Linked DNA regions of Homo sapiens: region 1 is linked to region 2. Evidence: fine-mapped expression QTL. A gene starts in region 2. The other region holds a variant in brackets. All regions are shown on one strand. Distances are from middle to middle.

The links.
Region 1: its variant is fine-mapped to the expression of SAE1 in whole blood (TOPMed, PIP above 0.99).

What each region holds. Positions count from the first base shown.
Region 1 is chr19:47,155,858-47,160,241 of GRCh38, forward strand. All of the region lies in intron 5 of SAE1 (SUMO1 activating enzyme subunit 1), which reads left to right. LOC124904730 (a long non-coding RNA gene) reads left to right here and starts at 813. Exons shown (of 2, transcript XR_007067277.1): 1 at 813-1,324; 2 at 2,539-4,384. RefSeq lists enhancers at 1,183-1,726, 1,727-2,268, 2,269-2,811. The variant G/A (reference allele first, on the strand shown) is at 2,379.
Region 2 is chr19:47,128,323-47,132,706 of GRCh38, forward strand. SAE1 (SUMO1 activating enzyme subunit 1) reads left to right here and starts at 2,513. Exons shown (of 9, transcript NM_005500.3): 1 at 2,513-2,706. The coding sequence starts at 2,609. RefSeq lists enhancers at 2,287-2,901, 2,594-2,833.

The DNA of each region.
Region 1 (4,384 bases), 28 kb after region 2:
AGCCTCCCAAGTAGCTGGGACTACAGGTGTGTGCCACCACACCCAGCTAATTTTTGTATTTTTAGTAGAGACGGGGTTCCACCATGTTGGCCAGGATGGTATTTATCTCTTGACCTCGTGGTCCACCTGCCTCAGCCCCACAAAGTGCTGGGATTACAGGCATGAGCCACCATGCCCGACCAGAAAACTTTTTTTTTTAAAGCAGCAAAACACCAGCCCTGGGTTACAGTAGCAAGACCCCGTGTCTACAAAAAAAATGTAAAAATTTGTCTGGCGTGATGGTGAGCACCTGTAGGCCCAGCTACTCATAGGCTGAGCTGGGAGGATTGTTTGAGCCTGGGAGGTGGAGGCTGCAGTGAGCCATGGTCACACCACTGCACCCCAACCTGGGCCACCTAGCAAGATCCTGTCTAAAAAAAAAAAAAGCAAAACAAAAAATTTTTTGTATTTTCTCTACTAACAATACAAAAATTAGCTGGGCAAGGTGGTGCGTTGCTTGTAGTCCCAGCTACTTGGGAGGCTGAGGCAGGAGAATAGCTTGAACTGGGGAGGCGGATGTTGCAGTGAGCCGAGACGGCAACACTGCACTCCAGCCTGGCGACAGAACGAGACTCTGTCTCCAAAAAAAAAAGTTTTCTTTGCCTGTTTTTTTCCTTTTGCCAAATAACCTTTAATAAGAAAAATCCTTCAATGTTGTCTTGCTGTGTCCAGGCTGGAGTGGCACAATCTCAGCTCACTGCAACCTCCACGTCCCAGGTTCAAGAGATTTTCCTGCCTCAGCCTCCCAAGTAGCTGGGACTACAGGTGTGTGCCACCACACCCAGCTAATTTTTGTATTTTTAGTAGAGATGGGGTTCCACCATGTTGGCCAGGATGGTATGAATCCTCAGATTCATATTTGTTAATGTAGTTTATATTAGGGGCTCAGCCTCTATTTGGATTAGGTGCAATAATTACATTTATAGAAAGGAGTGGAGAAGGGATCAGAAGACGATGGTTTCTGTAGCTAGTGCTGGAATCTGAGATGGGAACCATGCGATGGGGAAAGCAAGATGAAGGGGCCAGAATTGGTTTCATTGAACTGAGAGGAAAGACATGACCAAGCCCATATTTACTCTTTGCTTTGTAGATTTAAATGTTGAGAAAGAAAAACAGCTGGTCAGAATGTTGAGTTAAATTACGCTAACGAGGGGATTCTAAAGAGTGCAGAAACCACAAAAGAGACTGCAGAAAACCACAAAAGTGGAACTCTCAGACTCTCCAGCAAGGCGGCGTTGGAGATTTTCTTTCTCATTTTGTGTTTGTGTTGGAGTAGTTTGGTGCTGTAAGTGTGATACAGAGGAATTAAGCCCTAATTTTAGTGTCTATTCACAGAACCATAATTATCCAGAGTGAACCTTGGTGTTTTGGCCAAAACTTGGGTGCCTTTCTTTCTTTTTGAGGCCCAGTCAAGATTTATCTGAATAGCTCCGTGAATTTGGTGGGGGGAGATAAATTGTTAACAAACGGAGGAGTACAAAAGCTGCTTTGTGGGTGCTGTCAGTTTATAAATCACACCCTCTTACAAGTGTGACACTTGGCCTTGGTGTGAAGGGTTTTATGGCTTAAGGGCCTTCTCTGATTGAGGCAGGTCTTTCACATTCAAATGGAGAGAGTGCCTAGCTTTGTTAGCCATTCACAGCTGGAAGTTTCCCTGGAGTCAGTTCTGATGGTGCCCACTGGGGTGGATCTGGAAACCTCTTTTGGGAACCACTTTATCTCGCTATGAGGAGAATGTGGGCAGCCCAGGCCTTTGCCCACCATTCCGGAGGGCCCTACAGGCACAGAGGTTTTTGTGCAGCCTCTTCCTACGTGGAGCTGAGCTGGAAGGTATCAAAATATTCCCCAGCTGACATTGTTAGTCAGCTGTTACACTTGAACAATGCAGGCTCGGATTCCAACCCCAAGCCCTTAAGGTTACGAGGCATTCAGTGCATTCCTGCTGACAATCCCTGGGATTCCAAACCTTGCCTTTGTGCAGCCTCACCAAGGGCCCTGCGGACCGACTGGGCTGGACTGGGTTTTGGCCATGGCTTTGTCACCTTGCAATAACATGCCTCCTTCCGTTTTGGCACAGATGGCCCTGTGATTTCAAGGTTCTCTTCCAACACCAAAGATTCCTTGATTCAGATGCTGCCCTTTTGCCTAATTGTACAGAATAACTAGTTGGGTTGTGCTCAGAGAGTGCAGGGTGGGGGTGGGGAAGCAGCTACTTCCTGTTTCCTGTGAAAGGTTTTCTGGTTAGGGTTCCCTTCCCCTCCCCGCTTTCCCTAGGTTTAACCAAAGGTTGTAAAGCCACTTTTGCTTCAAGGTACACTTTGTGCTCCTAAATTAGTAAC[G/A]TTGAAAAACAAAAAGGAAAAACAGCCTGTGGTTTTCACACCCTCTAGGAAGCTGGTGGGCCTTTCTAGCACCTGTGCCATTCTGATAAATAAGGGCTTAGGAAAATGCCTAGCCCAGAAATAGGTGCTCAGTAGTTTGTTTGCTTCCTTTGGTGCTCAGGAGAAGATTTGAGACGGATTTCGTCACAATCAGGTCTCGGGCACAAGCCTCACATGGACACTGACATGCAGGAGCCAGAGGAGACAGCAATGAGGTGGTGGTAAGGAAGTGCCCAAAAAGGTTTCCCAGAGGAAGAGTTGTTTGTGTTGGCATGTGAGGGACAAGCTTTCCAGGCACCAGAGCCAAGAGCAGTGCTCTGTCCGAGGAAGTAGGATAAACCGAAAGACGGACGTAGGGGCAGAGTTGCTGTGGCTGCCCTCACTGCCGCAGCCAGCTCCTTCCATGAGTTGCAGAATGCCTACTGTGTGCAAGGCACTGTGTTGAGTGCAGGGAATCACATCCAGTCTTGTTGTCCCCATCTATAGCTGATAAAGAAGCTATGAGAAATTAAGTGACCTGACCAAGGCCACACAGCTGTGGAAGAAGGGGCGAGAGCATAGACAGTGGGTAAGGGCATAGGCTCACCCTATGATTTACAAAGAGGGATACCCCTGAAGTTGCTAGGGTAACGTGACATATTAGGAGGATGGTGGGATAAAATATGTGAACATCGGGATCATTCTGGAAAACCTTTAGGATAAAAGGCCACTGTCATGCTCCCATGTTCACGTTTCTTTATTGTGAGTTATCTGTGTTAGGTGCTGCCAGAGATGATGAGATGCCTGACAGTGGTTACTCTGTAATAGCTCTTTAAAAATTAAAGACAAAGTAGGGTTTGTTCCTGACTGTACTAGAAATACAGATTTAATTTTACCTCTGCTCCTGAAATAGGTGACTAATTTGGAGTACTATTAATACTCTTTTCATGAATTAGTTGAGAAATTCCACAGTTGAGGAGTGATTCATTCTTTTGACTCCCTCTTTCTGAGCAATTTGTTGACAGCCTTCTCATCCTCTCTTACACCCGTCATTAAAGAAACAGTCGAGTTCTTTTTCTTTCATGTGGTACCTTGGTTTCCACTGCTGGTGGCCCTTAGGTTGCTTGTCTCTGTCTCCCCGCTTCCATTTTAAGCTCCATAGGGGGAAGGTAGTCTTGTTCACTGCTAGACTCCTAGTCCAGTGTGTAGCACAGTCATATCCACGGAATATTTGTTCAGTGTACTGGTGGCTGTTAACTGCAGCATAATCCAGCAACCCTGGAGATTATTTTCTTCCTTTTTTTTTTTTTTTCTTTGAAGCAGGGTCTGACTACTCTGTCACCTAGGCTGAAGTGCAGTGGTTCAAACACTGCTCACTGCAGCCTCCCAAGTAGCTGGAATTACAGACATCCACTACACCTGGCTAATTTTTAATTTTTAAAAATTATTATTATTTCTGAGATGGAGTCTTGCTGTGTCACCCAGGCTGGAGTGCAGTGGCACAATCTCAGCTCACTGCAGCCTCTGCCTCCTGGGTTCAAGCAATTCTCCTGCCTCAGCTTCCGGAGTAGCTGGAACTGCCAGTGTGTGCCACCACACTCGACTGGTTTTTGTATTTTTAGTAGAGACGGTATTTCTCCATATTGGCCAGGCTGGTCTCGAACTCCTGGCCTCAAGTGATCCGCCCACTTTGGCCTCCCAAAGTACTGGGATTATAGGCGTGAGCCACAGCTTCCAGCCTGATTGTTTCCATTTTAAAAAAGAGTAATTGAAGTAACCTTTGTTACCAATGAAATGAATTAACCTTCTAGTATATTAATTCTCACGGTTTAGGTTATTTGAACTAAGCTGAGAGAACAGAATACCAAAGAAGACAATAGACTTGCCCAGAAATATTTAGAAGTAAGTCACTCAGTTGCCTGGATTGGAACCCTCAGGCCAGAGAGGTTCAAAATCCTGCATTTTTTTTTTTTTTTTTTTTTTTTTGA
Region 2 (4,384 bases):
TGGAGGTCATTGGTTGGTTGAAGTGTGCAGGGTGAAGTAATGAAACAGGGAGTTGAAGAAACTCTATTCTCCTGTCGATTTGGTTCCTCTGCGGGGTCTTCACACTGGTTGGTATCAGCTGTTTTGCTGGAATTCAGGATCTGAAAAATATCTTAAGCTTTTTTTTTTTTTTTTTTTTTTTTGAGACAAGGTCTGTTGTCCAGGCTGGAGTGCAGTGGTGCCATCATAGCTCATTGCAGCCTCTAACGCCTGGGCTCAAAGGATCCTTCCACCTTAGCCTCCCAAGTAGCTGGGATTACAGGCACGCACCACCACACCCAGCTAATTAAAAAATTTTTTTTTTTGTAGAGACAGGGGTCTTGTCATGTTGCCCAGGCTGGTCATGAACTCCTGACTTCAAGTGATTTTCCTATCTCAGTCTCCTAAAGCGCATGGATTACAGGCATGAGCCACCATGCCGGGCGCTAAGCAATTCTTATTATTTATTTATTTATTTATTTATTTATTTTTTTCTGAGACGGAGTCTTGCTCTGTTGCCCAGGCTGGAGTGCAGTGGCGCGAACTCGGCTCACTGCAAGCTCCATCTCCCAGGTTCATGCTATTCTCTTGCCTCAGCCTCCTCAGTAGCTGGGACTACATGCGCCTGCCACCACGCCCGGCTAATTTTTTGTAGTTTTAGTAGAGACAAGGTTTCACCATGTTAGCCAGGCTGATCTCGAACTCCTGACCTCGTGATCCGCCCACCTCTGCCTCCCAAAATGCTGGGATTACAGGCGTGAGCCACCACCTCCGGCCTAAGCAATTCTTAAATAAAAATCTATGATTCCGCCAGGCATGGTGGCTCACACCTGTAATCCGTGCACTTTGGGAGGCCGAGGCGGGTGGATCACAAGTTCAGGAGTTCGAGACCAGCCTGGCCAACATGGTGCAATCCCTGTCTCTACTAAAAATACAAAAGTTAGGTGGGCATGGTGGCTTTTTTTTTTTTTTTTTTAGACGGGAGTCTCTGTCATCCATGCTGGAGTGCAGTGGCAGGATCTTGGCTCACTGCAACCTCTGCCTCCCAGGTTCAAGCGATTCTCCGGCCTCAGCCTCCCAATTGGCTGAGACTACAGGCGTGTGCCACCACGCCCGGCTAATTTTTTAGTATTAGTAGAGATGGGGGTTTCACCATCTTGGCCGGGCTGGTCTCGAACTCCTGACTTCGTGATCTGCCCTCCCTGGCGTCCCAAAGTGCTGGGATTACAGGCATGAGCCACTGTGCCCTGCCAAAAAGCCTATGATTCTAACATCAGAAATCCTTCCACCTCAGCCTCCCACGTAGCTGGGACTATAGACTCAGTACCACCACACCAAGCTAATTTTTGTATTTTTAATAGAGATAGCGTTTCCCTATATTGACCACCTGGGGCCATCCCTGGTTTTTTTTTTTTTTCCCTTCCTTCCTTCCTTTCCCTCTCTCTTTCCCTCCCTCCTTCCTTCCTTTCTTTCTTTCTTTCTTTTTTTTTTTTTTTTACAGAGTCTTGCTCTGTTACCCAGGTTGGAGTGCAGAGGCATGATCTTGGCTTACTACAACCTCCGCCTCCCGGATTCAAGCAATTATCCTACCTCAGCCTTCCAAGTAGCTGGGACTACAAGTGTGAGCCACCATGCCCTGCTAATTTTTTTATTTTTACTAAAGACGGGATTTCACCACATTAGCCAGGCTGGTCTCCAACTCCTGATTTAAAGTAATCTGCCTGCCTTGGCCTTCCGAAGTGCTGAGATTACAGGTGCGAGTCACCGTGCCTGGCCTATTCCTGTTTTCTTAACGCTCCTCTCTCCCACTGGGCCGTGACTGCCTCTAAGGCAGAGATGTGTTCATTTTTATTATTATTGTATGTCCAGGGCTGGGCACAAAGTGCAACACATAGTAGGGACATGAAAGGCTGGGCACAGTGGCTCATGGTTGTAATCCCAGCACTTTGGGAGGCAGAGGCGGGAGGATGGCTTGAGGCCAGGAGTTGGAGACCAGCCTAGGCAACAGAGGGACCCCATCTCTATGAAAAAAAAAAAAAAAAATTGACAGTTCAATGTCACCTCTGATAAGCCTTCCCTGACCACCCCTGTTACTCTGTAGCCCCATGTCCTGCTTTATTTTTCTCCAAAGCATTTATCATCGCTGGGTTTATATTTATTTCTCTTCGGGCTTTTCTCACTGGATCGTAAACTCCATGAGGACAGGGCTTTGTCGATTTCACTCAATACCGTTATTTTACAACATCCCTATTGCTGGGATCTCAGTATGCACTCCTTAAATATTTGCAGAATTTAAGTGCCACATAAGTGACCACGTGGGCAACGCCCTCGGGGCCTTAAGCCGCGCCATTTTTGGGGCTAGGATTGGTTGGACCCTCCGTCACGTGACATGCAGTCGCCGGATCGCCTTTGAGTCTCGTGAGGTACTTTTGGTCCCAGGCTCCGCGGACGAGGTACTGCGCAGGCGTGGGAGGGTCTGCGCATGCGCAGAAGCACTCCGGGCGTGCTGCCGGCGGCGGTAGGTGGCGCGCGGGTCCGGCGGGCGGTTGGCTTGAGCGGGACCGGAGCTGAGGCAGGAAGAGCCGGCGCCATGGTGGAGAAGGAGGAGGCTGGCGGCGGCATTAGCGAGGAGGAGGCGGCACAGTATGACCGGCAGATCCGCCTGTGGGGACTGGAGGCCCAGAAACGGTCAGGGCCGGCGCGGCTTGAGGCCGCTAGGGTCTGGAGGGGGCGTCTATTCTGAGGCGTTTGCGGCCCGGAAGGAGCGGGAAGGTGTGATTTGAAGGGAGGAGGCGGGAATTCTGTGCTCTGGGATCGTCTCTCTCTTGGGGGGACTGGAGGAGTTGATTGGGGATGTTTCTGGAAGGTCTGGGAAGTGGTTGGGAGGGCCGTTCCGAAGGATGGGAGCTCTGAAGGGGGCGTTGGGGAGTCCTGAGAGAGCGGGAGAATTCAAACTCAGGAAATCCGAGGCCCGAAAGCGGTGATTGTGGGGTTTGATCGCGGTTAGGGGATAAGAGGGGCTGGGGATACGTGGAAAGGGTGAGGTGAGGGACGCAGTTCATTCATTCGAGGGTATGGGACCTGGTTCCGTGCTGCACACAGGGGAGACTGGACTGGCCAACCGGACAGACGGGAGCTTACACTCTTGTGGGAGCTCACGGGCGGGCCAGTCTGAGAGAATGCGGGTTTTGAGGAGTTTTGGAGCAAGTTATCTCAAATGGGAATCTTGAGAGGCTCGGAGAGGCTGGAGGGGGACGGCCGTAGGCTCCCGAAAAGGTTGCTTGTGTTTGGTATGGGGCTGTGTCTTGATAGGACAGGAGACGTAGTTTGGGCATTGTGGAGTAGCTTAGGGAATTCTTTTTTTTTTTTTTTTTTTTTTTGAGATAGTCTCTCTCTGTCGCCCAGGCTGGAGGGCAGTGGCGCGATCTCGGCTCACTGCAACCTCTGCCTCCCGGATTCAAGCGATTCTCCTAACTCAGCCTCCCGAGTAGCTGGGATTATAGGGGCCCGCCAGCACGCCCGGCTAATTTTTGTATTTTTAGTAGACACGGGGTTTCGCCATATTGACGAGACTGGTCTCGATCTCCTTACCTCAAGTGATCCACCCGCCTCGGCCTCCTGAAGTGCTGGGATTACAGGAGTGAGCCACCGCGCCAGGACGTCTTTTGTTTTGTGCAGTTGGGTGACCTCGGTTCACTGCAGCCTCTGGCCTCCCGGGTTCAAGACTTCCTCTCACCTCAGTCTTCTGAGTAGCTGGGATTACAGGCTCGCGCCACCATGCCTGGCTAATTTTTGTATTTTTAGTAGACATGGGTTTTCACCATGTTGGCCAGGCTGGTCTCAAACTCCGGACCTCAAGTGATCTGCCCGCCACAGCCTCCCAAAGTGGTTGGATTACAGACGTGAGCCACTGTGCCCAGCTTGTTTTTTTTTTTTTTCTTTCTCTGTGGCCCAGTGGAGTGCAGTGGTGGGATCACAGCTCACTGTAGCCTCAACCTCCAAGGCTCAAGGGATATTCCCTCTTCAGCCTCCCAAGTAGCTGGGACTACAGGCGTGCCCCACCACATCATCCGACTAATTTTTGTTTTTTTTTTTTTTTGTAGGATGGGGTTTTGCCATGTTGCCCAGACTGGTCTTGAACTCCCAAGCTCAAGCGATCCTCGGCCTCAAGAGATCTCCCCCCATCTCAGACTCCTAAAATGCTGGGATTACAGGCATGAGCTACCATGCCTGGCCTCATTGATCAATATTTTTACTTAGCCTGGACGCAGTGACTCACACCTGTAATCCCAGCACTTTGGGAAGCTGAGTTGGGGGGAGGGGACCTCTTGAGCCCAGGAGTTTGAGACTAGCCTGGGTAATGTTG